Homo sapiens: one gene and its partners. The protein of the gene in region 3 interacts with the protein of the main gene of each other region in a pairwise test. Each region holds a gene or a part of one and is shown on either strand. Other genes may lie near its edges.

Region 1 (7,083 bases), on a different chromosome or scaffold from region 3:
GGAGAGACTTCATTCTCTCCTATCTTTCTATGAGTTTTCTGTCTGGTTTTCCTGATTCTACTTTCTCCCTCATCTATTACTAGATGTTACTATCTCACAGAGAGTGAGAATTCAGAGAAAGAAATTGGATTGTTGTTTTGTTTTGTTTTGTTTTGAGATAGAATCTCACTCTGTCACCAGGCTGGAGTGCAGTAGCACGATCTCGGCTCACTGCAACCTCTGCCTCCCAGGTTCAAGCAGTTTTCCTGCCTCAGTCTCCCGAGTAGCTAGGACTACAGGTGCATGCCACCACGCCTGGCTAATTTTTGTATTTTTAGTAGAGATGGGGTTTAACCATTTTGGCCAGGATAGTCTCAACTTCTTGACCTCTTGACCTCATGCTCTGCCTGCCTCGGCCTCCCAAAGTGCTGGGATTACAGGTGTGAGCCACCACGCCCAGCCAGGTTTGTTTTTTTTAGTTTTTTTGTTTTTTTTTTCAACTTAAGCATACCCTGAGATTCTTTAAGTTTTTTCAGATTGTTTTATGACTGAAGATTTTTTTAAAAGCTCATCATGTCATTCAAAAACCCATATGCTGCAGTTTTGGCTTCCATACCAGATTTGAGCTCTTCTGCTTGTCCCTCTCGGGAGTTTATGGTGTGGCTGTACCTCCCCTCTCTGCGTTGTGCCTCTGCTGTTGCCACCGTGCTCCTTCCCCTGCGGCCCTCTGTGCCTCCCCCAGGCAACCTCTGCCCTTCAGGGGCCTGCAGCTAGATTTATCCCCACAGGGAGGCGTTTTCTCATGTTGTGACTGTAACTAATCTCTCACTTCTTTGGGATATTTGAGAACATTCTATAATTTAATTCATACTGTTTTCAATTCATCTGACATGTCTTGGTCCAATCTTTCCAATTTGTAAACATGAGAATAGGTAACATCTTGTGTTCCTAGCAGTGTCATTTGCATTCTTTGTACTGAATTGGCTTCAGATGTTTATTGACAAATTGATTAATGCGAGGAGGTATATAATTGCATACTGGCAGAAAAGTGAGCCCAGAAAATTTAAAGTTTCAAAATGTGTGTTCAAATACAGGCTGATTTGTATTGCAAATGTCTGTAGGTATTGTGCAGCCACATTCCAAGTTAACATTTTTGAATGACTACATTTAAATCTCTGAATTTTTTTCTTAAGCACCTATGTTAATCATTTTACTTCTTATACTTAAAATATCAACGTTTAAGAAGGCAGATGAAACATAGCCACATTGACCTCAGTTTGCAAATTACTGATTTAAATTAGAATCAAATGATAATTTTGAAGTCAGACAGTCCTTTTGTTAATGAAACATGATTTTCTGTCCTTTTTATTCACTGAACTTTTTTTTAATGTAGTTCCTTTGGCATTGTCTTATGTATGTCTTAAATAGAAATTATGGGTGGTGTTTTTTTAATTGGGAACCTGTAACACGTTAATAACTGGGTGATTTATGTGAGACTATAATATGTTAAACTACCATTTTTCTTTATTTTAATACAGTATCTTTTATATTAGGCCTTACTGGTAAGTAATATTTTGTGTAAGGGATAAGTAGATGGAGGCCATAATATTAACAAAGAATGAAATTAGCATCAGATCACAAAATTAATTTTATGTTTCCAGTATACCTGTGGGACTAACAAGACAATTATCTGCTTTGGGTCCTTTTCATCCACCTGTCCCCTTTGAGTTTGCTGTTTTAAATAAAAACTGGGCAGTCGTTGATCAGTTTAACCCTTTCCCCATGTATGTGCATGCCCTTGTCGTTCTAATTGATGACATCATAGGCTGGAGCTGTCTTCTCTTTAAATGTGTTACTCATTGGCCTTGGCTGGCAGGTTGTTAATTCATTTTGGACCTGCTACTATGATAAAGAGGAACATAGTTGGCTTTTCTGGTCATCTGTCTACCTGCAGCAGGGAATCATTGCCTAGCAGAGTTGTGAAGTTTATCCTTCATAATAACAGCATTTAGGAAGGAATAATGAATACGTTGAAAATACCAAGGGAAACCACTGGCAAATGTAAATGTTCTGATTAAGGGCATATGGATAGATTTGATTATCTGTAAAAGGGAACATTGTCAGTAGATTTGCTCTTTCTTGGATAATGTAAAAGGTCAATGTTTTTGGTAATGAAAGTAAAATTTTAAAAGGTAATGGAATTAATTGATGATTCTGAATACTCTTAGGACTTTTCTAATTTTTTATTTCTATCACATCATGTAATTAAAGATCAATATAGTTAAAATCATTTGAACTTAGGTAGTTTCTCTAATAAATCGCTTGTTCAGGGAAATGGTTCCTGAGAAAGTATGTTAGCAAACTCATACACACTTGAAACTTCTACATTCCTGTCCTTATTAGATTGTAAGCTCCCAAGGGCAGGACTCTCATCTTTTTTGGGTTTTTTTGTTTGTACATTTTTTGAGCTGAGCTGTATGTCTTCTGTGTAGATCAGTTCATATGTTTTTGAAGGATAATTTCTTTCTAAATTAATGTACACATTCCTTAAGACTTGTCCCTCTGGTTTAACACATTATAATCTGAGGGTTGAAAGAGACCTTAATCCAATAGAAAATTTTAATATGCAATATGTATAACATAAGTTTTATCTGAGGGTTGGAAGAGACCTTAATCTAATAGAAAATTTTAATATGCAATATATGTTACATAAGTTTTTCTCAGACATGTTGAATTAACCATCATAGTAATATGGCAGAGAGTTAATTCTATGACAAGCAAACATCTCTCTTTTTTTTTTCTTTTATACTGAAGTCAAAGGAGAAACTGCTTCAAAGCTTCAATCAGAAATTTCAAGAGGTTGTCAAGAAGATGGGATTAGCATAAATAGTGTTCAACCAGAAAATACCACAGCGGCTCACAATGATCTTCCTGAAAACTCCATCGTCAACTATGACTCCCAGGCCCTAAATATGTTAGCCGATCTAGCATTAAGCTCTGCTACTTCTTCCACACCAGTATCTGAGGCTAGAAATCTTCACTGTTCCTCTGAATTGCCACAAAATGATGTTTTGCTCTCTAAAGAAAATTCTTTGCGAGGTACATCTGACCATGAATATCATAGAGGAGTTAAAACTCAAAAAGGTGAATTACTACCTAACCCATCTTCTGATAGGAAGAGTAATTCTGGATCAGACTTAACAGTTAGCCAAGATGAAGAAAGCTTGGTTCCTTGTAGTCAGGCCCCTGCTAAAGCCCAGTCAGCACTTACTGAGGAAATGCTAGAATCTTCAGATGCAAGCCAAAGCTCTTCTGTTTCTGTGGAACATTCATATGCCCTGCTCCTTACAGAACATTCAAAGAAACATCTACAGGAGAGAGAGATACTAAGCCCTCTGTTTCCCAGGAATGGGACAAAAAGCCCTGAAGCAGCAACCCCAGTGGGGAAAGTCATGCCATTTCGGCATCAGCCCGGCCTTTTGCTTCAGCAAAAGCCTCCTGACGACCCCGTGGTGAAGCCCAAGGATCGACCACCGTCTGCCCGTGTGAAAAAATCTTCTTGCTCTCGTATAGTGCTTAGCTGTGATGACTCCGTTAAGATCACTTTCAAATGTGAAACAGAATATGCATTCAGTTTAGACAGCAAATATACCAACAACCCACTGGAGAAAACTGTAGTAAGAGCATTACATGGGTGAGTATGAGTGAAACTTAGTGAAAATGGATGAAACTTTTCTGTTGAGATGAATGTAGTGAGATGGGGAAACTTATGCCAAACTCTGGAGAAGGAGAAAGAAGTGTTGTGTTTAAAACCAGTAATTTGATAATAACATCAAGCAAACATGTTTCCTGGCAATTAAGAGTAACAGGCTGGTTTTCCCCCTGTGCTCATGTGGAGAAGTTTTTAAAGATAATTTTAGCCTAATGAATAGCTTTCCATTTTGCAATGCTCCCTCGTAAGCCCTTGTGGCTTTTGAATTTCAATTTTTAGATGAGATCTTAATGTAAAATAGTGTGAGATTTAGAAATAATGCTTTACAGACTGAATTCCAGAAGAAACATTTTAAAAATCACTGTAGCTTGGTAAATTGGTCAGATTGATAGGAGTAAGCAGTTTCACATAAGATTGTTCTATAGATCTCCCTTAAGAAGGAATCAAGTCAGTAATAACAGAGTGGTGAACAGCACAGGCTTTGGAGTGTAGACTAACCTAGATTTGAACCCGGGTTCTTTCCCTTTCTTACCTCCTGTGATCCTGGGCAAGTTTCTTGCTTCTGGACAGTGCTTCTTAATTGTGTGTGCTGCTCATCTAGAGATTTCACTGAACTGCAGATTTTGATGCATTCTCCTTGGGAGAGGCCTGACATTCTGCATTTCTAACAAATTTTCAGGTGATATCAATGGTGGATGACAGTCTGTGGCCAACATTTAATTATGTAGCTGTGTCCTGAGGTTACATATATTGAGATGCACAGTGACTGGCCAGTAGTAGTAATAAATGGTAACCATCACTGTTAGCAAGCATTCATTAGCTATATGAATTGACATTCAGCTCCCTATTAATGAACTGTTTCACATCTGACTATATGGACTCTACAGCTGTCAGGCTTTCTTCTATACACCTGTTCATATATACTCATAAGGGTCATTTCCTTAGAACTTCCTGTTTAGCTATTGCCCAACTCTGCAGCCCCCCTGACTTATGGTACTCCAGCGATCTGCCATCCTTTTGCCTGCCAGGTGGCCAGAAATGTTTTCTATTTCCCCTTACTGTTTCAGGATATTTTGCAGAACTGTAGTCTGAAAATAGTATAGTTCTGTTGAATTGCCCAGAGAGATATTTTATCTTCAGACTTTCTCAATTATTAGAAGAGAGACACAAAAATGGAAAATAAATGAATCAGCCAGACTTAGCAAAAGCATGGTGATGAGGATTTGGGTATTGGCGAAACCATTTCTATAATAAGTATTCTGTGTCCAGAGTGAATTTGTATGGTGTAAAAGACACGTGCTACCCATGTTCAGATCATGGTTCTGCCATACAGGTTTTGTGATTTGAAAGAAGGCAATTACATGTTCTGATTCTCAGTTCCCGTCTCTGTAAAATGAGTGGGTTAGATGGATAATTATTTGTTAAGTCAACTACATATTTACTCATTCATGTTTCATATCTGTAAATTTTAAAAATAAAAACAAAAACTAAGGAATATTGGAGGCACTTGCTTATGATAAGGTAATCAACTAAAATAACCATTTTCAATGATTTTCATGTGTTCTTTCTGTAAACTCTTAGGCCCTGGAATACTGATTTGCCTGATAATGTGGAAGAAGTGAAGCTTTTACTTCATATGTGGGTAGCTCTGTTTTACAGCAATCAGAACAAAATCATACGATCTTCCCGAAAGGTTGTAGAACACAGCAACCCAGCAAAATATGTGTCTATAAATAGCACGTTAGAATCTTGTGAGCTCCGTGAAATTGAGGAGTCCCTTGGTTTGGAAAAATGTTCTGCAGACTCTCTGTTGGAGACTAACGAAATTTCCAGGGCTCATGCTGCTGAAGTATCCTTCCGTGATCCTAACTGCTTGCTTCCTTTCATTAAAACACCACTTACCCAAGGCTTGGAACTCTGTGTACAAAATGAACAGAAAAAAACTTTTGCAAGAGAGTGTGATCCAGACACCCAAGAAGACCAGAATTTCATCTGTTCTTACAATAATGAGGTATGTAAAGCTGAATACCGTTAAATGTTGGCATTATTTTTGAAGAAAAAAATGTTTATATGTAAAATCACATTCAAAACAAGGCATTTTTAAATTTTAGGACAGTGAATTCTCAAGGTATGTAAAGAACTATTACACCAAAAACCTAGTTTTCATGAAGTGTCCTTGAATTGTCTGCAGGTAGAGCTTACCTGCCATCCCGATTGAAAAAAACCAGAGTAGAAAAATGTCACAGGGTCCACATGATCTGGGAGCCCAGCATAATTTGGGGCAAATTGCTTCTTTGCCTAATTTTTAAAAGAGGTGACTTAATACCTATCAAGTCTTATGTAGAATATTGTTTAAGGATCAAATATAGCAATAATAAATCTTAGATATACTTTGATAAACCTTAAAGTAAACTAAAATTAATTGTATTAAAATTATTTTTGAAGACAGATGCTGGAATAGTAAAATGCCAGACCTGTGAAAGAAGACCCATTGCAAATAACTATTTGTAAATATGGAAAATATACTTTGTTTTGTTCCTTGTTCTCAACTGACATTCAACCAGGCCAGATAATCCAAATTTTACCTGGAGCAAATCTAAAAGTTGTTAACAAAATTCTAAGCAAATGAATTGACAAAATTACCTACCTTTTAAAGTTTTCCGCCCAAATTTATTCTAGAATAATATTGCTTGGGTTTGGGCAGCATCTCTGATTCCTGTCTTAAGAAAGAGTAGACAGTGTTCCTATACCCGGGGTCACCGGGGACTTGGAGGTCCTTGGGTGAGCCTCATAGAACCCGTGAATATCTTCAAGTGATTGTCATCATCATGAGAATTAAAGATTTCTGGGTCACTGTGTGCCAGAAAGTAAGAGTTCTAAGCCCTTCACTCATATTAACTCAGTTCATTCTCAAATAAGTTAAAGACTATTAATCTCCCCATTACATAGATGACGAGACTAAAGCATAGAGAAGTAAAGAAATTGCCTAAAGTCACATAGAAAATTGTCAAGCCAAGATTCCAGTCTAGAAAACCTAAATGTTAACTATGTATGTGCTTTTTTTTTCCCCTAAAGATGGGGTTCAGCAGTTCCATCCTATTCTCAAAGAATTACATAAAATCCAGTTAAGAATCACCACCTTAGAATAAGAAAATATAGTCTAGTCAGGGAGATTTAAATTAATACATATATACATGCTAGTTTCTTATAAAATACCATTTGTCGTGGTAATATGTAATTAACTATCATCAGTACTAATTTTAGCAATGATTTTGGCAAGCCTGACTGTTCAAATCAGTGATTCCTAACAATCTCCTTAGTATGTACTTACGTAGGCTTTTGTTTTTTTGTCATCTTGTTGAATGCTGTGCCTGTACTTGAAAGGCACACGT
Region 2 (7,432 bases), on a different chromosome or scaffold from region 3:
TTACAGGTGTGAGCCACCACACCCAGCAGGATCAAGTCTATATTCTTAATCATGAGGCCAGTATGTGTTTGAGGCTAAAAGTTGCCTCTGAATTCATCTTTGATTGAATTCTCATTTATTTATAAATAATTGTGTATAACTGGAATTTTTTCTTTGCCCCAAGGGTTAAGGTGTTTTTGTTTTTTTTTTAATTTTAATTTTTATTTCTTTAAGAGACAGGGTCTCACTGTGTTGCCTGGGCTGGAGTGCAGTGGCTATTCACAGATGTGATCATAGCGCCGCCCTACAGCTTCAAATTTCTGGGCTCAAGCCATCCTCCCGCCTCAGCTTCCCAAGCAGCTGGGATTACAGGAATGCACCACCACGCCCAGCTCAAGGGAGTATTTTTAAATGTCTAAGTGTTAGGTTGGTTGTTTGTTTAGCCTATTTTAAAATTTTAAAATTGTGTTTGTGTGAGGAAATGTGGTTTATTGTGCTTCTTGGAATTTTTGAGATTTTTCTTCATGGCCTATTATAAGATCAGTTGTTTTTGTTTAGATCTTCATTGTGGTATTTATTTTATTCTGCCTTTCTCTGTACCTCTGTCTCTTCTTTAAAGTGGTTCGATCACTGAGGTCAGGCATTGTCTGTATTGATCTATAAGGCAACTGCCTAGTAGAAATATTTAATAAGTAGGCTGAATAAATGAATATTGATCCTTGTGGATTTGAGGAGTGTTATATACATAAAAAATCCAGGCCAGGTGCGGTGGCTCACGCCTGTAATTCCAGCACTTTGGGAGGCTGAGGAGGGTGGATCGCTTTAACCCAGGAGTTCAAGACCAGCTTGGACATGGTGAAACCCTATCTCTATAAAAAAAAAAAAATACAAAAATTAGCCGGGTGTGGTGGCATGCACCTGTAGTCCCAGCTACTCTGGAGGCTGAGGTGGGAGGATCACTTGAGCCCAGGAAGCGAAGGTTGTAGTGAGCTGAGATTATGCCACTGCACTCCAGCTTAGGTGACAGAGTGAGACCCTATCTCAAAAAAAGAAAAAAACCAAAAAGGTAGAAAAAGGTAGAATAGAGACCAGGCCATTTCCTTTCCTTCGATCCCTCCAAATACCATGATTCCTTGTCATTTCTACTTGGATTCCCTCCACCACACCTCTTTGGACCTCAAAAGCATAGATTTCAATTGTCATAATCTTTGGTTTGGCACATTCTCATCATTAGTTCATACTTTGTTATAATGTATGCATTATAAGCATTTTTTTTTTTTTGATACAGAGTCATGCTCTGTCACCCAGGCTGGAGTGCAGTGGCATGATCTCGGCTCACTGCAACCTCTGCCTCCTGGTTCAAGTGATTCTTCTGCCTCAGCCTCCCAAGTAGCTGGGATTACAGGTGTGTGCCACCACACCTGGCTAATTTTTGTATGTTTAGTAGAGATGGGGTTTTGCCATATTGGCCAGGCTGGTCTCGAATTCCTGACCTCAAGTAATCTGCCCACCTTGGCCTCCCCAGGTGTTGGGATTACAGGCATGAGACACTGCACCTGGCCCATTATAAGCATTTTTGAAAACATCATCCCAAACAAAAACTGAAACTTTGACAATAACATACATCTAACTATGTGGTTCCCCCTTTCCCACCCCTTTTGTTTCTCACCATCTGAGGTGAGCATTTGAAACCCATTTTTATCATTCCCTTGCTTTCCTTTTTATGCAGTTTTATGCATCTGCATGTATTTTTCAAACTAAAAAAGGTTTTGTGTTGCATGTAATCTTTTGGAGTTTATTCAATTCTTGTTTCAATTTTGGTGGACTGTTGATTTCAGGAATTTTTTCAAAGGTCCTGTGATTTTCTTTTATTCATCCTTGCAGAGGGGATTTATGCTTGCCTAGGGTTGACATACAATCAAATGATTGATTTGGGATCTGTATGAAATTTTATAGCAGTTCCTGGTCAGAATCAAAGGCAGAACAGAAGGCTATAGGCTGCCATTGTGGGGACCCAGCAGGCTGTGTGGACTGAGTGGGGCGCTGTCTCCAGTTAAACATTTTCTCTCCACTGCCACATCCAACACTGGCCACTGGGTGTGGCAGCTCCCATCAGAGCAAGTTGTGGTCATGTTTCTGTGATGTCTGTCCCTGGAAGGAGGCACAGAGGCAGCAAGCATTCCTGTGGTGCCTCAGCTGGCCCCGTCACTCCTTTCTCAGATTAGAACACCCTTCAGGGATCTAGAAATATTCTTTATTCAGATGGAAACAATCATAGTAACAGGCCATTCTACCAATTGGATAGAGCTGTTTCTTCATAAGCCATAAACCTAAGACTAATCCTAATCTGTTTCCTAACTTGTGTTTTAACGCATACCCGGATTCTAACTGCCATGGTCTTTTCTGCAGAATGTGTTCTAGTCCCTACATCCTAATTTATACCCCAACTTCCATTCAAACCTTTCCCTTTTTCAATTTCATGAACCTTTCCCCTGAACCTCTAACATCTGTGACTGCTCCCAGCTCCTTTCCTTCCTCCCATTCCTGCCAAATGCTAGCCGTGAATTGCTGTTTAGTTAGCACTTACCGTAAGCTAGACGCTGGGGTCATTGCTCATTGTGTATCATCTCAGCTAGCTGATATCCTACTCTATGAGATGGTAACATTAGTTTTTCCATTTTACAGATGAGAAAACTGAGGCTCAATGAGATGAATTTGGACAAAGTCTATATCTCTGGTGAAGCTAGGATTTGATCTAGTGGTGTTTTTTTGTTTTGTTTTGTTTTTGAGACGGAGTCTCACTCTGTTGCCCAAGCTGGAGTGCAATGTGCGATCTCAGCTCACTGCAAGCTCCACCTCCTGGGTTCATGTGATTCTCCTGCCTCAACCTCCTGAGTAGCTGGGACTACAGGTGCCCACCACCACGCTTGGCTAATTTTTGTATTTTTAGTAGAGACAGGATTTCACTATGTTGGCCAGGCTGGTCTCGAACTCATGACCTTGTGATCCTCCTGCCTCGGCCTCCCAAAGTGCTGGGATTAAGGGTGTGAGCCACCGTGCCTGGCTGTTTTGTTTTTTAAAGTTATGATGCCTTTGGCTGTAAGTGAAAGAAAACTTAAAGTGGCCTTAATAATGAAATTTACTATTTGACATAAAAAGGCTGATTAATTCCATGGCTCTACATTACCCTCAGGACCCTGGCCTTTCTCCTCTACCATCCATCCTTGATGTGTCCAGGACTTGTCTTCAGGTTAGCTTTCCACAAGGCTTCCACATGCCTGCCAGCATTCCAGCCTCACATCCCCCAAAAGTCTAGGGGCAGGAATGGACATCGTTTCGTCTTGCGCATCTCTGTCTCTCTCACTTGCTCTAATTTGATGTGAATCTTTTCTTTAAGAGCAAAGAAACTTTTCCCAGGACCCTCCCCTGCCCCAGCAGATTTCCCCTCATATTATCCAGAATGCTGGAAGCCCGTGCCTAAGCGGTCATGGGGAAGGAGCATGGGACCACGCTTAGACTAATCCAGCTCATTCCTCCAGGCTGGCTCTCCAAGCCTCCCTGATGCAGTTTCTGGCTCCTCGGAAGAAAGGAGATGGGGGTCAGGAATAGGTATAAGCTGTGATAGTGTCTGTCACAGAATCCCAAGTCTGGTTGTTAAGCTTGACACACTGCTGCTATTCTGGGCTTGCCCCTCGGCTCCCATCCTCACTCTAACATATTTCCTCAGCTGTGAGGTAAGTCCCCACAACTCTAAATGACACATTCTAAGGCTGTCCTTGGCAGAACAGTGAGGAACATGAAATGTGTGCCTTGGAGCCCAGTGCTCTTATGTAATTCCCCTGGGATGTCAGTGCCGTCCTTGGTCAGCGCAGGCATGGTCACTGGAGGTGGGGAGAAGAGCAGAGCTCTGCCTCAGAAACGTGGGCCCTGAGCCCTCAGCCTGGCCCTGACCCAGCCCCAGAACTTTTTGTTTTGTTTTGTTTTTTGAGGTGGGGTCTGGCTGTGTTGCCCAGTTTGGACTGAAACTCCCGGACCCAAGTGATCCTCCCACCTCAGCCTCCTCAGTACGTTGATGTGAGCGTGGCTGCACCCGGCCCAGAGTTGGGTTTTAAACATGTTTCCCCGTCCTCTGAGATCTCATCTTCCTGGTCTGTGCTTTTTCTTCTCTTAGAATCCGAATTTTTTATTTTATTTTATTTTTTTAACAAATTCTAACTTGCTCCCTAGTGTTACCGCCCACACCTACAACAACTTTATCCTGTTTCCTTCCCTCAACCCCCACAGCTTTTCTGGCTCCCATGGAGTGCACACTCGGCCACTGTGGCCGGAGCCTGGCAGAGCCTGGCTCATTTGTTGAATGGATGACTCTGATTATAGCAGGTATTCAGTAAGCCACTCTTGTTAAATTATTGAAAATAAACGATGTTACTCCCTAGAGGTGTCTAGGTTCCTTTTTTTCCCCCATCACCTGTCCTCTTTCACCTCCCCTCTGGGCCCTGGCTTCCCTCAAAGATCCTTTCTCCAGGTCCCCCATCTCCTTTGATGAAGACTCATGAGGAACACAGTGTCCACCTCTCAGGCAGGCGCTCAGGAAGGAAGTCGCTGAGACAGAGCTCAGTGGCCCGAATGGTTTCTGCTCCCTCACCTCCCACGTCCCACCTCCCACGTCCCACCTCAGGGCTTCCTTCGGTTCGGGCCCTGCCCCACGAGCAGGACCACCTTTGTCCTGGACAGACAGACCTGCTAGCCTCTGCTCTACAGTTCTGCCGGCCTTCGCCCTGGCTGTCCTCACACGAGTGCCCCCTCCCTTCTCTCCTCCCTTAGCCCCGCCTCCTTCCTCTAGCCCCACAGCCCTGGACACGGTACACACAGACCAGAGCCTTGGCTCAAAGGCAAACAAAAGGAAATGCCCGGCTCCCCATGGCTGTGGCCAGCACCTTCATACCAGGGCTCAACCCTCAGAACCCTCATTATATCCCAGGGTAAGACTCCCACTTAGCGCTCCCCGCTTGCTGCTGGGAGTAGGGGTATAGGGTGGAGGAATTAAGCTGCTTAGAGCATGGGGCCAAGCGGACAGGTTGGTTTGGGAGGCTGAGGTCTCTATGGTGGTGGATGGAAAAGGAGAAGCAAGGGACTAGTGAGACACCGGGTCTGCCCCAAAGCTTTGTGTTGTTCTCTCCATGGGAACAGGGTAACAGCAGAGGAAGGATCGAAAGCCCAGGCAGAGAACTTAGAAATGCCTGCTCCAAATATATACACTGCTGAGTCCAGAAAGATCAGGGCTTCAGAGGTCTCCGCTTCTGCCTCTGGGGATGGCGGGGCAGGGCGATTCTGGTGAGTGGGAGAGTCTGTGCTGCAGGTACACTGGACACTGCCCACTACTTCGGTTCAGCGTGGGCCAGACCTATGGGCAGGTGACTGGTCAGCTACTTCGAGGCCCTCCTGGCCTAGCCTGGCCCCCTGTCCACCGCACACTTCTGCCTCCCATTCGGCCTCCAAGATCTCCTGAGGTTCCCAGGGAGAGTCTACCTGTCAGGCGTGGGCAAGAAAGGCTCAGCTCCAGCATGATCCCTGGGTACACAGGTTTGTACGCAGGTATGCACAGGTGCCCCTCCCAGGAGCATGTGTTCCAAACACTAACGAGTCTTCCTTGTCCCTGCCTGCCCAGGTTTTGTACCCCGGGCACAGTTCATCTTTGCCAAGAACTGCAGCCAGGTCTGGGCCGAGGCTCTGAGTGACTTTACTCACTTGCATGAAAAGCAAGGGAGTGAAGAGCTACCAAAGGAGGCCAAGGGAAGAAAGGACACAGAGAAGGACCAGGTGCCAGAGCCGGAGGGGCAGCTGGAGGAGCCGACACTGGAGGTGGTGGAACAAGTGAGACCAAGAAGCTGGTGGGGAGTGCAGAGGTGTGGGAGTGGGGGTCTTACTGTGTGTCCGGGCAGTGGGGGCAGCATGAGTAGTGTGGCTGTGGGTTCAGGGGATGTGCACTTGATTGTCAGCTCCACCTCCTTGGGAGATTGTGTGACAGCACAGGGGCTTCTCTCACAGGCTTCTCCCTACTCCATGGATGACAGGGACCCTCGGAAGTTCTTCATGTCAGGTGAGAGCTGGGGGGTCAGGATCAGAGGCGTGGGGAGGCCCCAGGATGCCTTGGCTCAGTGTCCCCATCCTCAGGCTTCACTGGCTATGTGCCCTGCGCCCGCTTCCTCTTCGGCTCCAGCTTTCCTGTGCTCACCAACCAGGCACTGCAGGAATTTGGGCAGAAGCACTCACCAGGCAGTGCCCAGGACCCCAAACATCTCCCCCCACTTCCCAGAACATACCCTCAGAACCTGGGTCTTTTACCTAACTATGGGGGCTACGTGCCAGGTGAGAAGAGCCCCCGGGGAGGCTTTGGGGACTGGAATGTTTGTTTGTATGGGTATGGGGTGGGTTGGGTGGTTTGTGGGGGTTGAAACTAATAGATATGGGAGGGCTCAGATCATGTGGTTCAGCTTTATTATCAGGCAGAAAAGGAAACCGAGGTAGCTACCCACAGTGGGGAATTAGGGCCAGATTTTAGAGGGCTGTTTGGAGGTCTAGCCAACTGGCTGAGAATTAAATGGCTTTGCCATGCCACTTGCTACATGTGACAGACTCTCTTGGCCACACAGGGTATAAGTTCCAGTTTGGCCACACATTTGGCCATCTCACCCATGATGCTCTGGGCCTCAGCACCTTCCAGAAGCAGCTCTTGGCTTAGGCCACTGGACATCAAGTTCCCTTCCCTTTTCATCCTATCCCAGCCATCCTTTTGGAAGGGAGAGAGGTGGGTGGGAGGGTGGGAGGGTGGGGGAACACAAAGAGAAAATGGTTTGGAGGCTGAGCACCTTTTTTATTAATAGGTATAATAAATAAATAAATAAATACATAAACAGACGCCTGGGCTCCTCCTCCCTCTTCTGATGACCAGGCACTGGCCACAGCCTATTTACAGCTGGGGGGCTTAGGGATCTGGCCCCAATACTGTTACCCATCCTCATCTCCACCTGGCCTAGGGAACCCTGTAGATGGCTTTCTGGGCCACCCGCCTCCAGGGGGACTTGCTTGTCTTCACCCATGGAAGGGTTGGCCCAGACGGGCCAGGGGAATCCTGGCAGCCCAGTGCTGTGTCCCATCCCTCTCCTGGGTGGAGGTCTGGACAAGGTCACTGGGACAGTTAAGGGGGCGTAATTAATACTGAGCACAGGGAGCAGGTGCCAGCACAGGGATACGTGGCCCCAGCTCTCAGTCTACTCTGCAGCCAAGCCAATGGCTTGGGAAGGGCTCTCGGGCTCTGAGTCTGGGGGTTATGAGGGTCCCTGAGGCCACCAGCATGCACAGGGCCTCAGTTTTGGCTGCTTCCAGGGGTTGGACTTGGAGTTGGGGTCAATGTCACGTAGGCCAGGGGCACCAGGCCAGAGTCGGGGCCACG
Region 3 (7,083 bases):
GCCAACATGGAACCCCATCTTTACTAAAACACAAAATTAGCTAAGTGTGTTGGCGCACACCTGTAGTCCTAGCTACTCTGGAGGCTGAGGCAGGAGTATCTCCTGAACCCGGGAGGCAGAGGTTGCAGTGAGCTGAGATCGCGCCACTGCACTCCAGCCTGGGCGACAGAGTGAGACACTGCCTCAAAAAAAAAAAAGAAAGAAAGAAAGAAAGAAAGAAATGGAACTTTCCTGGCCTTCTCCTGGGTACTTGGTGTCTAGGATGATGCGCAGAGCCTGTCCCAGCTCTCTAGATTCGTCTAGTTGGGGGCCCCTGAGGCTCAGGCAGGCACACCACCCCCACCCCCCGGCGGCCATGTCTGCAGCATTGCCCATCTGTGTGTCACCAGGGAAAGGAACACAGGTCTGGAAGAAGAAAGGAGCCATCTATGAGGGGGACTGGAAGTTTGGGAAGCGAGACGGCTACGGCACCCTCAGCCTTCCTGACCAACAGACAGGAAAGTGCAGGAGAGTCTACTCAGGCTGGTGGAAAGGTGATAAGAAATCGGTGAGCAGGCCTGCCAGCCGGGGTGTGTGTGTGTGTGTGTGTGTGTGTGTGTGCGCGCGTGTGTGTTTAGGGGAAGCCGAGAGAGGCCTGGGAGAAAAGAGAGGGGAGGTCTACAGGGAGGAGGACAGGGTTGTGCTGCTCGTGGGAGAAGGAAGGGGTGGGGGAATTGCAAAGTTTCTCAGAACAAAACCCAGGAAACAGGAAGCAACAGAAGGCCAGGGAGGAGCCCACGAAACCCTGCGGTTGCGAGGAGCCAGCCAGGCTTGTGGGGACGAAGTCGCCTCCACCCTTTTCCCCCTCGTTTCCTGGCTTTCTTTTCCCCAGGTATCACTTTCTGAGAATCCCCTTTCTGCTGGGCCTGAATAAAAGGGAGGTAGGAAAAGTGGGAGCAAGAGAGCAGGGGACAGGAGAGGAGGGTCCCGGGGGGCCGAAGCCAGCCAGAGGCGCGTGCTCAGCCCGGAAACACCCAAGCTGGGCACAGGTTCCCTCCATCTACTCCCACAAGTGTGGAGGAATCCTCACCATCAGTCCCAGAGACACTAATAATAAACAGTATTGCAACTGAGCAACTGCTACTGTGAGCCTGAAACACATATTTAAAACTTTTTTTTTTTTTTTTTTTTTTGAGAGGGAGTCTCATCCTGCCGCCCAGGCTGGAGTGCAGTGGCGCCATCTTGGCTCACTGCGAGCTCCGCCTCCCGGGTTCACGCCATTCTCCTGCCTCAGCTTCCCAGGTTGCTGGGACTACAGGCGCCCGCCACCACGCCCGGCTAATTTTTTGTATTTTCAGTAAAGACGGGGTTTCACCGTGTTAGCCAGGATGGTCTCCATCCCCTGACCTCGTGATCCGCCCGCCTCGGCCTTCCAAAGTGCTGGGATTACAGGCGTGAGCCACCGCGCCCGGCCTGAAACACATTTAATATTCAGTTAACTCTCACAGCAACAGCTCATCATCATCATCATCTTCATGCCCATTTTATTGATAAGCAAACAAGCTCGAAGAGATGAGGTGTCTTGTAACTGCCCAAGGGGTTCACCTTGCCGGTGCCTGGCCTTGAGTTGTATTATTACTCAAATCAGTCTCCCCGAACATTCCAGCAGCAGAGTTTTTAAGGATAACTTGGTGGGTGGGGGAAAGACAGTGAACCAGGAGTGCTGATTGGTCAGAGATAAAATCATAGGGAGTCAAAGCTGTCTTCTTGCTCCCCAGACAGAGCCGATTCATCAAGACGGGAATTGCAATAGAGAAAGAGTAATTAACACAGAACTGGCTGTGTGGGAGACCTGAGTTTTATTATTATTATTATTAATTTATTTATTTTTTGAGATGGAGTTTCGCTCTTGTCGCCACGCTGGAGTGCAATGGTGTGATCTCGGCTCACCGCAACCTCCGCCTCCTGGGTTCAAGCGATTCTCCTGCCTCAGTCTCCCGAGTAGCTGGGATTACAGGCATGTGGTACCACACACTGCTAATTTTGTATTTTTAGTAGAGACAGAGTTTCTCCATATTGGCCAGGCTGGTCTCGAACTCCCGACCTCAGGTGATCCGCCAGCCTGGGCCTCCCAAAGTGCTAAGATTACGGGCATGAGCCACCGCGCCTGGCCCTGGGTTGTATTATTACTCAAATCAGTCTCCCGGAACATTCTGGCTGCAGAGTTTTTAAGGATAACTTGGTGGGTGGGGGAAAGAGTAAGCCAGGCGTGCTGATTGGTCAGAGATAAAATCACAGGGAGTCAAAGCTGTCTTCTTGCCCTGAGTCAGTTCCTAGGTGGGGAGCCACAAGATCACATAAATCAGTTTATTGATTTGGGTAGTGCCAGCTGATCCATCAAGTGCAAGGTCTGCAAAATATCTTAAGCATTGATCTTAGGAGCAGTTTAGTGAGGATCAGAATCTTGTAGCTTCCAGCTGCATGACTCCTAAACCATAATTTATAATCTTGTAGCTAATGTTAATCCTACAAAGGCAATCTAGTCCCCAGGCAAGAAGGAGGTCTTCGGGAAAGGGCTGTTACTGTCTTTGTTTAAACTATAAACTATAAGTTTCTCCCAAAGTTAGTTCAGCTTAAGCCCAGGAATGGACATGGACAGCTTAGAGGTTAGAAGCAAGATGGAGTCAGTTAAATTAAATCTCTTTCACTGTCTCAGTCATAATTTTGCAAAGGCAGTTTCAGTCTTGCCTGGAGTCACACAGCTAGCAAGTGGTAGAGCCCAGGGTTTCATGTTCTCTGCTCCCAAATTGTTTATTGGCAAGTAGGAAGAGAAAGCCCTGAATAACCAATTTACGTAGAATATGGTATTAGGAGGGATGTTTTCACAGGGTGCCCAGAGGAAGGTCATCAAGCCCAGCCTAGAGAATTCAGGACAGAAGGCTAAGCACAATGGCTCACGCCTGTAATCCCAGCAATTTGGGAGGCAGACAGGGGTGTATCACTTGAGGTCAGGAGTTCGAGACTAGCCTGGCCAACATGGTGAAACCCCCGTCTCTACTAAATAAAAAACACAAAAAAAATTAGCCGGGCATAGTGGTGTGTACCTGTAGTCCCAGCTAGGGAGACGGAGACATTAGAATCGCTTGAAGCCAGGAGGCAGAGGTGGCAGTGAACCGAGATCACGCCACTGCACTTCAGCCTGGGCAACAGAGTGAGACTCCATCTCAAAATAAATAAATAAATAAATAAAACTATATAATAATAATAATTAGCTAGATGTTGTGGTGCACATCTGTAGTCCCAACTTTTCAAAAGGCTGAGGCAGGAGGATTGCTTGATCTCAGGAGGCTGAGGTTATAGTGAGCTATGGTGGTGCCACTACACTCCAGCCTGGACAACAGAGCAAGACTTGTCTCAAAAAGAGGGAATTCAGGGCAGGCTTCCTGTAGGAGGTGACACTAAAAGATGCTAGGAGTTAGCCAGGAAGAAAAAAAAGGGAGAAAGATGGGAGGCAAAAAAATAGCAAAGGGAACGAGATGTAAAACAGCAGAGTGTGTCTGCCCTGGGACAGGAGTGAGGAGAAGAGTTGCGGGGGCCCTCAGGGATATGTGGGAAATCAGGATTTTGAGGAGTAGACTTGGCTTCTCAACCCAACCTCCTCGGGTGTGATCTGCAAACAGACCTTGTTTCCCTGTGGTTGGACACTAAGTGTGGTGTTTTTTGTTTTTTGAGACGGAGTCTTTCTCTGTTGCCCAGGCTGGAGTACAGTGGCGCGATCTTGGCTCACTGCAAGCTCCGCCTCCTGGTTCACGGCCTTCTCCTGCCTCAGCCTCCCGAGTAGCTGGGACTACGGGCACCCACCACCACACCCAGCTAATTTTTTTGTATTTTTAGTAGAGACGGGTTTTCACCATGTTAGCCAGGATGGTCTCGATCTCCTGACCTTGTGATCCGCCTGCCTTGGCCTCCCAAAGTGCTGGGATTACAAGCGTGAGCCACAGCGCCCAGCCTAAGTGTGGTGTTTTTTGTTTGTTTGTTTGTTTGTTTTTTGAGACAGTCTTGCTCTGTTGCCCAGGTGGGAGTGCAATGGCACGATCTGGGCTCACTGCAACCTCCGACTCCTGGGTTCAAGCAATTCTTCTGCCTCAGCCTCCCAAGTAGCTAGTATTACAGGTGCCCACCACCACACTCAGCTAATTTTTTATATTTTTAATAGAGACAGGGTTTTGCCACGTTGGTCAGGCTGGTCTAAAACTCCTGACCTCAGGTGATCCATCTGCCTCGGCCTCCCAAAGTGCTGGGATTATAGGCGTAAGCCACCACGCCAGGCTAAGTATGGTGTTTATGTTCATTTTTCTGGGTCAAAATAAGAGTGGGAGGGGGGCGAGCATGATCAGATGGGCGATTTTTTTTTTTTTTGAGATAGCGTCTCACCCTGTCACCTAGGCTACCGTGCATTCTCAGCTCACTGCAACCTCCATCTCCCAGGTTCAAGTGATTCTCCTGCCTCAGCCTCCCCAGTAACTGGGATCACAGGCGCCGCCATCACGCCCAGCTAATTTTTTGTATTTTTGGTAGAGATGGGGTTTCACCATGTTGGCCAGGCTGGTCTCAAACTCCTGACCTCAAGTGATCCACCCACCTCAGCCTCCTAAAGTGAGCCGGTGAGCCACAGCGCCCAGCCTAGATGGGCGATTTAAAGAGTCCTCCGGCGCTGTAGGGGCTGCATGGCGCATGGTGTGGTGGGGATGAGAGAGGAGAGGGTGGGTCAGTAAGGAGGGAGTTTAATGACTGGCTGCATGGAGGCGCCAGCAGAGGGACAGAGAGAAACAGAGCATGGGGAGATCCTTCAAGACATTATCGGTGGGCACTATGGCTCACACCTGTAATCCCAGCACTTTGGGAGGCTGAGGCGGGCGGATCACTTGAAGTCAGGAGTTCAAGACCAGCCTGGCCAACATGGTGAAACCCTGTCTCTCCTAAAAATACAAAAATTAGCAGGGCGTGGTGATGCGTGTTTGTAATCCCAGCTTCTCGGGAGGCTGAGGCAGGAGAATCACTTGAACCCGGGGGACGGAGGTTACAGTGAGCCGAGATCACATCACTGCACTCCAGCCTGGGTGACAGAGTGGATCTCTGTCTAAAAACAAACAAACAAACAAAAAAGACAGGATACTCCGCTAAGACACGACCCTCCGCTTGGACGTAGGGCTGAGGAAGAAGGAAGAAGCTGGGGTGTGTGGCTCTAGGGGTGCCTGGGAAGACGGTGGGCTTTCCTGGTGGTGTTGGGGGGCGCCCTGAGTAGTAGCATCTTCGTACTTTCAGGGTTATGGGATCCAGTTTTTCGGACCCAAGGAGTATTATGAGGGTGACTGGTGTGGCAGCCAGCGCAGCGGGTGGGGCCGCATGTATTACAGCAACGGCGACATCTACGAGGGACAGTGGGAGAACGACAAGCCCAACGGGGAGGGCATGCTGCGCCTGAGTGAGTGCCCCACCCCCGCCGGCCCCGCCCACCCGACCACGCCCCCGGCAGCGAGCTGGCCACGCCCATTTGGTCCCACAGAGACAGGCCACACCCCACACTCTTGTCCCACACTGACCCTTGTGTCAATGTGGGACAAGAGAGGAAGAGCACCCTATCTCTCCCCTCAGTCACAAAAGGTCACATATATATGATGCTATTTATATGAAATTTTTAGGACACGCACCTCCACAGAGACAGAAAGTAGACTAATGGTTGCCTAGGACTATGGGGGTGGTGACATTAGTGGGTGTGGGGAATGGCTGCTTAATGGGCACAGGGTTTCCTTTTCGGGTGATTAAAACGTTTTGAAACTAGATAGAGGTAATGGTTGCACAGCATTGTGAATGTACTAAATGCCACTGAACTATACACTTCAAAATGGCCAACTTATGTTATATGAACTTATATCTCAATTTTTAAAAAAAAAGCCAGGCGCAGTGGCTCATGCCTGTAATCCCAGCACTTTGGGAGGCAGAGGCGGGCGGATCATGAGGTCAGGAGTTTGAGATCAGCCTGGCCAACGTGGAGAAACCCTGTCTCTACTAAAAATACAAAAAGTAGCTGCATGTGGTGGTATACACCTGTAATCCCAGCTACTCAGGAGGCTGAGGCAGGAGAATCACTTGAACTCGGGAGGCGGAGGTTGTCACTCAGGCTGGAGTGCTGTGGGGCAATCTCAGCTCACTGCAGCCTCAACTTCTTGAGCTCAAGCCATCCTCCCACCTCAGCCTCCAGAGTAGCTGGGACTATAGGTGCACACCACTATGCCCAGCTAATTAAAAAAATTTTTTTTTTTGCAGAGATGTGGTCTCACTATGTTGCTCAGGCTGGTCTTGATCTCCTGGGCTTATGAGCCTCCCATCTTGGCCTCCCAATGTGTTAGGATTTGCACTGAGCTCTGGAAGAGCGACCCCTGGGGGTCTAGCTTAGTTTGGTGTACCCTGCACCACACCTCCCTGTCCTTTCCCCCAGAGAACGGGAACCGCTACGAGGGCTGCTGGGAGAGAGGCATGAAGAACGGGGCGGGGCGTTTCTTCCATCTGGACCACGGCCAGCTGTTTGAAGGCTTCTGGGTGGACAATATGGCCAAATGCGGGACGATGATCGACTTTGGCCGTGACGAGGCCCCTGAGCCCACTCAGTTCCCCATTCCTGAGGTGGGCAGCCCTCACCAGGGCCCTGTGGCCACACCCAGACAGAGACAGAAGCCAGCATCCCCAGCCATGCCCAGGCCAGATCTGCCAGGCCCAGCCAAGCCCAGACAGGGAACAGACAAGGTTTTGTTTTCAGTCAGGGCATCCCTAGCAAGGGAGGTGGCTCCTGATGAGGCTGGCAGCACCCCACACGGCAGGCAGCGCCAGTCAAGGCTGGCAGCCTGGGTCCTCCATGCTCTCCAAACCAACTTCTTGGTATTTCCCTCCAGGTCAAAATCCTAGACCCTGATGGTGTGCTGGCGGAGGCCTTGGCCATGTTCAGGAAGACAGAGGAAGGAGATTGATGCCAGGTGAGGGGTGGGCACACCTGCCAAGTTCTGATGTGGCTGAGGCTGCTCCAGGGCCCAGAACAATGCACAGATC
Region 4 (7,528 bases), on a different chromosome or scaffold from region 3:
ACTGAAGGTTTGCCCATTCTGCTGCCTCCATCTCAGCTCCAGCTCCATCCCCCTCTCCACAGAAAGCAGTTGGTGACACGAGGTTCTATACTTTTCTTCTGTTGCTCTCTTGACTTAACGTGAAAACAGGGTATATTTGAACAAACTGTCCCAGGCAGGGGCTGGGCAGGGCCTGTGTGCCTTGCTCAGCCTCCTGACAGGACACTTTTGTTGCACTTAGAATTTACATTTTAATGGATGTAAAAACAACTGTGAGAGATGTCTGGGCCTGCAGAAGTCCAGCATTGCTCAAAAAAGCGTGTGTTCTAGTGAACATTTTCATATATATTTATTGGTTATAGCCTGTTAAAATATTTTCTTTTTTGTATTATTTATCCCCCTACATTATGTATTTATATGAGGGAAAAAAAGGAAAAAATTGTACTTTTTTAGTATTTACCTGTTACAAAGGACATTGTGTTTCCTGTCATGTAAAACCAGCTATTTTAGTTACTATTGTACTCTAGAAAAGAGCTGTAGATTTATGTTAAACTCGTACTTACGAACAATTGTAATTAGTTCTAAAAGGCATGAACTCAGCTCCTAATCGTCACTGTATAGTCCTGAATTTGTAGAACTAGAGTTAATTCCCTCTTGGAACTTTCTTTGTTCTTCAGTAGTTACTTTTTTCCTTACCTAAAAGGGTTGTCTGTCAAACAATTCTTGAATAAACTTTCTGTTATCAATTTTATCTTGTCCTGGTGGTCCAATTTAGATAGCAGAGCAAGGCTGCTGACTGCCAAATTTCCCCCAAGGGAAGAAGGACAAGGACAAGGACACTGAAGACCCTTCCCTGGCCTTTTTGTCCACTGCCCAGGTTCCTGTCTCCCCCTTGATATGTCTTAAGTTTAAATACCATTTTCTCACTCATAAGAGCCTGTAACATTTTGCCAACTTCTTCAGCTGTGGTTTAAGTAGCAAGTTGGGAGGTAACGGGGGACTCTTGGATGCTCTCTGTAGGTTTTTCTGTTTGGCCTGTATGCCTCTAGGTTTTTCATTCATTGACCTTTCGTCTGTTAGCTCCTTTGGCCACAGCGTCCATGCACCCCCCACCCCCCACCCCTTCCCACCACCACCAAGAAAATCTGGCCGATTACGGTTTCTTCCACGAAACCTAAACTTCACAATCCTCTTCCGGAGCCACAAAGAAGGTGTCACGTGACCCGAAGCCCAACCACCATTGGGTCTAAAATGAAAACAAAGAAAAATGATTAATCTAAAAAAAAAAAAAAAACAAAACTGAGGCCTAGACTTCTCAGGTCAAACTTTAAAACTAAGTAAAATTAAATCACTAAATAAAACTCGAGGCGGAGGGAGGGGAAGCACGTTCGATTTCCCCTGCCAGAGAAAGGGGAGAGGAGGGTGGGAGAAGCTGTTGGATCCAAGCGTAAATAAAACGGTCCCCAGGCTAATGTGCGGCTCTGTTTCCATCATCCTTGGGAAAACTTCATTTCTTAGTTGTGGTTCCATAAAAGTTTTATCACATTGGAGTGAAAATAGAGAAGGTCTGTCAAAGATGAAATGTCACCGCCGAGTCGCTGGAGCCGATAAGAGCGAGAAGACAGGGCGGCTGAAATATGGAGCTAATTCGTTGAAAGAGAAGCGATGGCTGCTTGCTGAAGAGCTGCATAATTCTAATTGTAAGCGATGTGCCCGCATTGCTTAATTAGGAGCATATATTTGGTGGTAGTGATGTTGGGGGAGTGAGAATCGTTCCAGGCCCTGCCTTAAAGAGAGGGCTGATTTTCATTTTTATGTTGCATCCTGGCAGTCCAAGGTTAGTAATTATAGTCTTTATGCAACAATAAATAACAATAAAAAAGCAACCTGAACTCTACGCCCTCCCCCTTCCCCACCACCAAGTAGGATTTTAACTGGACTCATCCAAGCAGCAAGCAATTTAGCATTGGGTCAGGCTATAATTTAAAGGCATAAGAGCGTGCAAAGTTTGATTGGGATCAAATAACGCTCAAGGGTTTTTCTTTCTTTCTCTTTCTCTCTTCTTCCTTGAATAACATTTTCTGAATGATATAACTAGATGAAGCACCATGTTTGGCTCTGGGGCTGGGTTGGGTTGTTATTTATCTAGCAGGAAAGAGGCCAAGAAAGAGAATTTAGCTTAAGTTTGAAAAACAGAGCTTTGGCTCGAAGCTGGAATTGCAAACAAGAAAAATAAGAACCAACTTGGCTTGGTGTTCCCTATCCTTCTCTTTGGAAGATTCCAGGCGCTCAGCTAAAGCAGCCAAAGACGTGGGTAAAATATCCGTGCTGTTAAATTCACAGCAGGACAGGGGGGCGGGGGAGGGATGTCTCTGAAAAGGAGGGTTCTCTGGGCCCCTTTTAACACCCAAGTTTTCCGCTGTTTGCTAATCTGGCCATAAAATCTGTCAGTGAGGGTTAGAGAGAGCTGTATTTCCTGCAGGGACAGTCTGCCCGAGTTGCCTGAGATAAGCTCTGGATCCTTCAGCCAGCTACAGAAGCTGTTGCTAAACTTTCAGAGGTGTTCAAGGGGGTGGCCAGAGGGAGAACCCACTCTCAGGCCTCCCTGCATGACTTCCAGACAGCTACTATTTGGATTATTCTATGCCCACCCCCATCCACACCTCTAAATGGCAAAAATTGTTTTCTTTGGAGCCTAGTTGCACACTACTGTCGCTGGCCACTTTGCCCAGGTCAGAGCAGCTCTCTCTGTTCTGAGCCCTCCAGAGCATGCCTCCTCGGTCCCTGCAGCCCCCACCTCCAACTCCCCTTTCTCCATCCTCCTCTCCCCCACCCTCATGCTTCTACTCAGACTTCTCTGTCCTTCTTTTTAAGTACTCACGCAGATGTTACACTGACAGAAAGTTTCTAGTTCCAGCTCCGGGCTCAGTTGCCATTTCTCTGCTAACCAGCCTTCTCCTCCTGGCTGGGCAGCAGAGAGAGAGGAGGGGGAGGGGAGGCCAAAGCCATGGGAGTTCTCCAGGCAAACTTTCCACCCAACTTAGCGCTTTCCCTCTGTCCCCATTTCCCATCTGTTTCCCAGCTCTCCCAGAATCACCCTTCTCTTTTGCACCCCCACCCCCACCCCCAGGCCTTTTTAAGGGATGTGAAATTTTGGCTGTTCGCTCTGCTTTCCCAAAGAGCCAAATTCTTTGATGCAATCGGAGGGAGCTGTCAGGGGGCTAAGATTGATCGCCTCATCTCCTCTCCATCCGTCTGACCCACTTATTTAAAAATCTTCCCCCAGATCGACTTTTCATTTTCTGCTTTGAGGCCTAGTTTCCCACCAATTGCTTGGGGCTCAGAGTCTTGTGCCCTCTCCCCATAGTAAATTACAACACTCTAAACTTCAGACTATCTTGGTCTCCTCAAAATAAAATAAATTTTAAAAACATTTTCCCCCAGCAGCCAGAAATGGAATATCATCTCAGTGGTCATTATTTCCACCCCTACCATCTTCAGGGAATTCTTCCTTGTCAGGGATTCTTTTTTTTTTTTTTTTCTTTTTTCTTTTTTAACTAGCACAATGGCAAAAATGGGAGGGAAAGTCTCTTTGTCCTAGGGGAAAATCTCCCCACCACACTCATGCACACACATAACGCTGATCTGAACTTTGAGAGTGCTCTAAGTTAAACCAATGGCTACCTCAGTTCTTGTTCATGTCCCTGGATATGGATACAGATACAAGCTTGAGGCTTGAGTGGGTACATGCACATCTTAGACTCTGCCTGTTTTTGGGGGATGTCACAGAGAAGCATGGAAGCCTGAAAGTGAGGAAAGCAGGGGTACATAAGGGGCAGAGGCAGTGCTGCAAACACTGGGCAGAGAAGAGAACCCAGACCATACAGCGATGGAGGCCAGAGGCCCAAAAATGCCCCTTATGCTCCATCTCACTCCTATGTGTCTGCCTGGGAGTTCCTGTCCATTTCCCAAGATTTAACTGTTGTTTTTGGAGGGTAACAGGGATAGTGGTGTGATGATTGTAAATCTCTTTCTTATTTTCACCTTAATACTGACCTTTTTCAAAGAGTGGAAGCCTCTTTCGACTCCCTCTTCCTCCAACGCGGAGATCCTCACTCATCTTTTCCTGGGGAAGGGGAGAAGGGAAGGGGATGCTGCTGGCCACGTAAAGAAGGCCTTAATTTACTCTATTAAAATACTTGGAAAAGAGGAAGGTTTCTCCCTTAGAGTCTCTTCTTTTCCAGGCTTCTGAAACCTTCTAACCTTCGAAGGGGATGAGGAAAAGGTTCCTCTAGCTTTTCTGGAGAAACGGAGGCATTGGGGAGAGAGCATGTGAGGCACTGGTGTAGGAATGGGGGCTCATGGTGTCCTGGTCGTGGTCCTCTGGTGTTTTTGAATCAATTAAACCAAATAATGCTCTCTGTTTTCCACCAGGCCCAGACGAGCGATTGGCGGAGGCCGGTCCCGTGACCACGAATTCCCTGTAATTTCGCTGGAGTCCTGGGTTTAATAGAGAGAGTCCCCATACGCTTGTATTTATCAGCAATATACAATTATAAAGGCCCAAAATTAAAAAAAAGAGAGACCGAAATCTCCCCCTCCCAAAATCGCTCCATTACATAAATCGGGGGGGGTGCAGGAGGGGGGTCCCTTCCGATCCTCCCTCCTGACGCCCCCCCCAGCAGCCCCCTCCCCCACCATTGAAAGCCATGAATTTTGAATTTGAGAGGGAGATTGGGTTTATAAACAGCCAGCCGTCGCTCGCCGAGTGTCTGACTTCCTTCCCCGCTGTCTTGGAGACATTTCAAACTTCATCAATCAAGGAGTCGACATTAATTCCTCCTCCTCCTCCTTTCGAGCAAACCTTCCCCAGCCTCCAGCCCGGCGCCTCCACCCTTCAGAGACCCAGGAGCCAAAAGCGAGCCGAAGATGGGCCTGCTCTGCCGCCGCCACCGCCGCCGCCACTCCCCGCTGCCCCCCCGGCCCCCGAGTTCCCTTGGATGAAAGAGAAGAAATCCGCCAAGAAACCCAGCCAATCCGCCACGTCTCCTTCTCCGGCCGCCTCCGCCGTTCCGGCCTCCGGGGTCGGATCGCCTGCAGGTCGGTAAGCGTGGTGGGGGTGGGGTGAGGGGCAGCTAGAAGAGGGGGAGAAAAAGCAGTGGAAGGAGGTTTAAAAAAAATGGTGGCGAGCCTGTTGGGGTTCCTTACCCCCTCCATTCCTGGGATGGGGAAGTAGAATATCCCACTGGGGTTCAGGCCTGGCCGCTAACAGCGTCTTTTTTTTTTTCTGTCTCTCTCTCTCTTTCTCTCCCTATGGCTGATTTTGGAAGCTGGTTGGGGAAACGCCTTTTTTTCTGCTAGAAGAAAATGATTTGATTGAGGTTTTCACCCGTATCTGTGTAGGGGAATGAGTATGTTGTTGCTGGGATAGACCCTAGAAGCAGAAAAGATTCGGTCCTTTCTGCCCCAACTCTAGGAGAAGAGGAAGAATTCAGAGCTAGGGAGGAAGAGGGGTGAAGAACAATCTTTCTGACCCTCGCTCCGGTTGAGTTGGAAAGTTCCGAATTGAGGGGTCCACTGGGAGGGCTTGGGAGGGGGATCTGAGGTTCCGGCGCCGAAGGGAGCCGCTCTCCGCCCCCTGCGTGGCCCGTGGGCGGCTCTGAATGCTTTGCCCTGACCCGGGCCGGGGCTGTAGACTAGAGAGGGAGAGAAGAAAACCCAAAAGCAGTAAAGCGAGCGGCTTTGGGGTGGGGGCGGGGGTGGGGTGGCGAGGAAGGGGAGAGGTGATACTGGTTTTGGAGGATGGGGTAGTCCGAACTGAGGTTGGGCTGAGTACACGGCCCGCTATGACGCCGAGCCTGTTTTCCCTGCAGATGGCCTGGGACTGCCGGAGGCTGGTGGCGGCGGGGCGCGCAGGCTGCGCACGGCTTACACCAACACGCAGCTGCTGGAACTGGAGAAGGAATTCCACTTTAATAAGTACCTGTGCCGGCCACGCCGCGTCGAGATCGCGGCCTTGCTGGACCTCACCGAAAGGCAGGTCAAAGTCTGGTTTCAGAACCGGCGCATGAAGCACAAGCGGCAGACGCAGCACCGAGAGCCGCCGGATGGGGAGCCTGCCTGCCCGGGAGCCCTGGAGGACATCTGCGACCCTGCCGAGGAACCCGCGGCCAGCCCGGGCGGCCCCTCCGCCTCGCGGGCGGCGTGGGAAGCCTGCTGTCACCCGCCGGAGGTGGTGCCGGGGGCCTTAAGCGCGGACCCCCGGCCTTTAGCCGTTCGCTTAGAGGGCGCAGGCGCGTCGAGTCCCGGCTGCGCGCTGCGCGGGGCCGGCGGGCTGGAGCCCGGGCCATTGCCAGAAGACGTCTTCTCGGGGCGCCAGGATTCACCTTTCCTTCCCGACCTCAACTTCTTCGCGGCCGACTCCTGTCTCCAGCTATCCGGAGGCCTCTCCCCTAGCCTACAGGGTTCTCTCGACAGCCCGGTCCCTTTTTCCGAGGAAGAGCTGGATTTTTTCACCAGTACGCTCTGTGCCATCGACCTGCAGTTTCCCTAACCTGTTTCCTCCTCCCGGTCCTTTCGACCCCCGCGCTCCTTGGCCGTCTACTGGAAAAATCGAGCCTCTCCCACCCTCAGTCGCATAGACTTATGTGTTTTGCTAAAATTCAGGTATTACTGAATTAGCGTTTAATCCACTCCCTTTCTTCTTCTTCTAAAATATTGGGCACTCGGTTATCTTTTAAAATTCACACAGAAAAATTCCGTTTGGTAGACTCCTTCCAATGAAATCTCAGGAATAATTAAACTCTAGGGGGACTTTCTTAAAAATAACTAGAGGGACCTATTTTCCTCTTTTTTATGTTTTAGACTGTAGATTATTTATTAAAATTCTTTAATAATAGGAAAAGGGGAAAGTATTTATTGTACATTATTTTCATAGATTAAATAAATGTCTTTATAATACCAAAACGAGTGTTTGTGTTGGGACCTAAACTCTTTCCCCGCGGCCCCAAGGCCGGTCCTCACCCCTCCAGGACCTGTGCGAAGTTGATTAGGTTCAGCGGCCCATATGGCAGCAAAGCCTCCAGGGCCGGCGAAGTCCGGGTGGTACAAAGGTGACCCGATTGATGGCCGCTTCGCCCACGGCTCCGGCAAAAGTCGGGAGTTTGCAGGAAGCTGGGTCACCTCCCCGCCCCTCAGCAGAGGGTCTTTGGTCCTGAGCGGGTGGTTCTGGGGCCTCTGCTTGGAAATAGAGATGGGCAGGTCGAGGGAGAGAGTGTACAGCGAACAGAGGAGGGTGAAAGGAGAGGAAGCCTGTGGACAGTCTTCAGGGTCGTGGCGGGGGCAGAAGTTTACTGGAATTGGGAACAATCCAAGGGCTTCCTAGGCTTTTGCTTCTTATGACCGAAGCCGGTGTAGGACCTTTTTCCGAACTCAAGAAGCCTAGGGACGCGAGGCCTGGGGCTTGAGCCGGGCCTCTTTGGGAGCTGTAGGTGGCTCTCCAAGGAGTGGAGTGGGGTCGGGGATTTTCTCGGGAAGCAGGGTCCCGCAC

What was found.
Region 1: the proteins of MORN3 (region 3) and TASOR2 interact in binary tests that used the Homo sapiens proteins (3 or more experiments, as listed by UniProt).
Region 2: the proteins of MORN3 (region 3) and CIMIP2B interact in binary tests that used the Homo sapiens proteins (3 or more experiments, as listed by UniProt).
Region 4: the proteins of MORN3 (region 3) and HOXB2 interact in binary tests that used the Homo sapiens proteins (3 or more experiments, as listed by UniProt).

What each region holds. Positions count from the first base shown.
Region 1 is NC_000010.11:5,736,825-5,743,907, forward strand, and holds part of TASOR2 (protein TASOR 2), read left to right. Parts: intron 1-2,793; coding exon 2,794-3,673; intron 3,674-5,272; coding exon 5,273-5,702; intron 5,703-7,083.
Region 2 is NC_000009.12:35,561,296-35,568,727, reverse strand, and holds CIMIP2B (ciliary microtubule inner protein 2B), read left to right. Parts: upstream 1-4,849; 5' UTR 4,850-4,899; coding exon 4,900-4,961; intron 4,962-5,169; exon of another isoform or gene 5,170-5,291; coding exon of another isoform or gene 5,292-5,338; coding exon 5,339-5,562; intron 5,563-5,647; coding exon 5,648-5,853; coding exon of another isoform or gene 5,854-5,885; intron 5,886-6,027; coding exon 6,028-6,079; intron 6,080-6,153; coding exon 6,154-6,348; intron 6,349-6,632; coding exon 6,633-6,721; coding exon of another isoform or gene 6,722-6,860; 3' UTR 6,861-6,897; downstream 6,898-7,432. Other genes in the region: AP-4 complex accessory subunit RUSC2, read right to left, coding at 7,346-7,432. UniProt on the Homo sapiens protein: Microtubule inner protein (MIP) part of the dynein-decorated doublet microtubules (DMTs) in cilia axoneme, which is required for motile cilia beating.
Region 3 is NC_000012.12:121,652,655-121,659,737, reverse strand, and holds part of MORN3 (MORN repeat-containing protein 3), read left to right. Parts: intron 1-389; coding exon 390-547; intron 548-5,304; coding exon 5,305-5,464; intron 5,465-6,478; coding exon 6,479-6,663; intron 6,664-6,929; coding exon 6,930-7,004; 3' UTR 7,005-7,010; intron 7,011-7,083. UniProt on the Homo sapiens protein: Assembles a suppression complex (suppresome) by tethering SIRT1 and MDM2 to regulate composite modifications of p53/TP53.
Region 4 is NC_000017.11:48,542,072-48,549,599, reverse strand, and holds HOXB2 (homeobox protein Hox-B2), read left to right. Parts: upstream 1-4,490; 5' UTR 4,491-4,688; coding exon 4,689-5,079; exon of another isoform or gene 5,080-5,642; coding exon of another isoform or gene 5,643-5,706; intron 5,707-5,852; coding exon 5,853-6,532; 3' UTR 6,533-6,945; downstream 6,946-7,528. UniProt on the Homo sapiens protein: Sequence-specific transcription factor which is part of a developmental regulatory system that provides cells with specific positional identities on the anterior-posterior axis.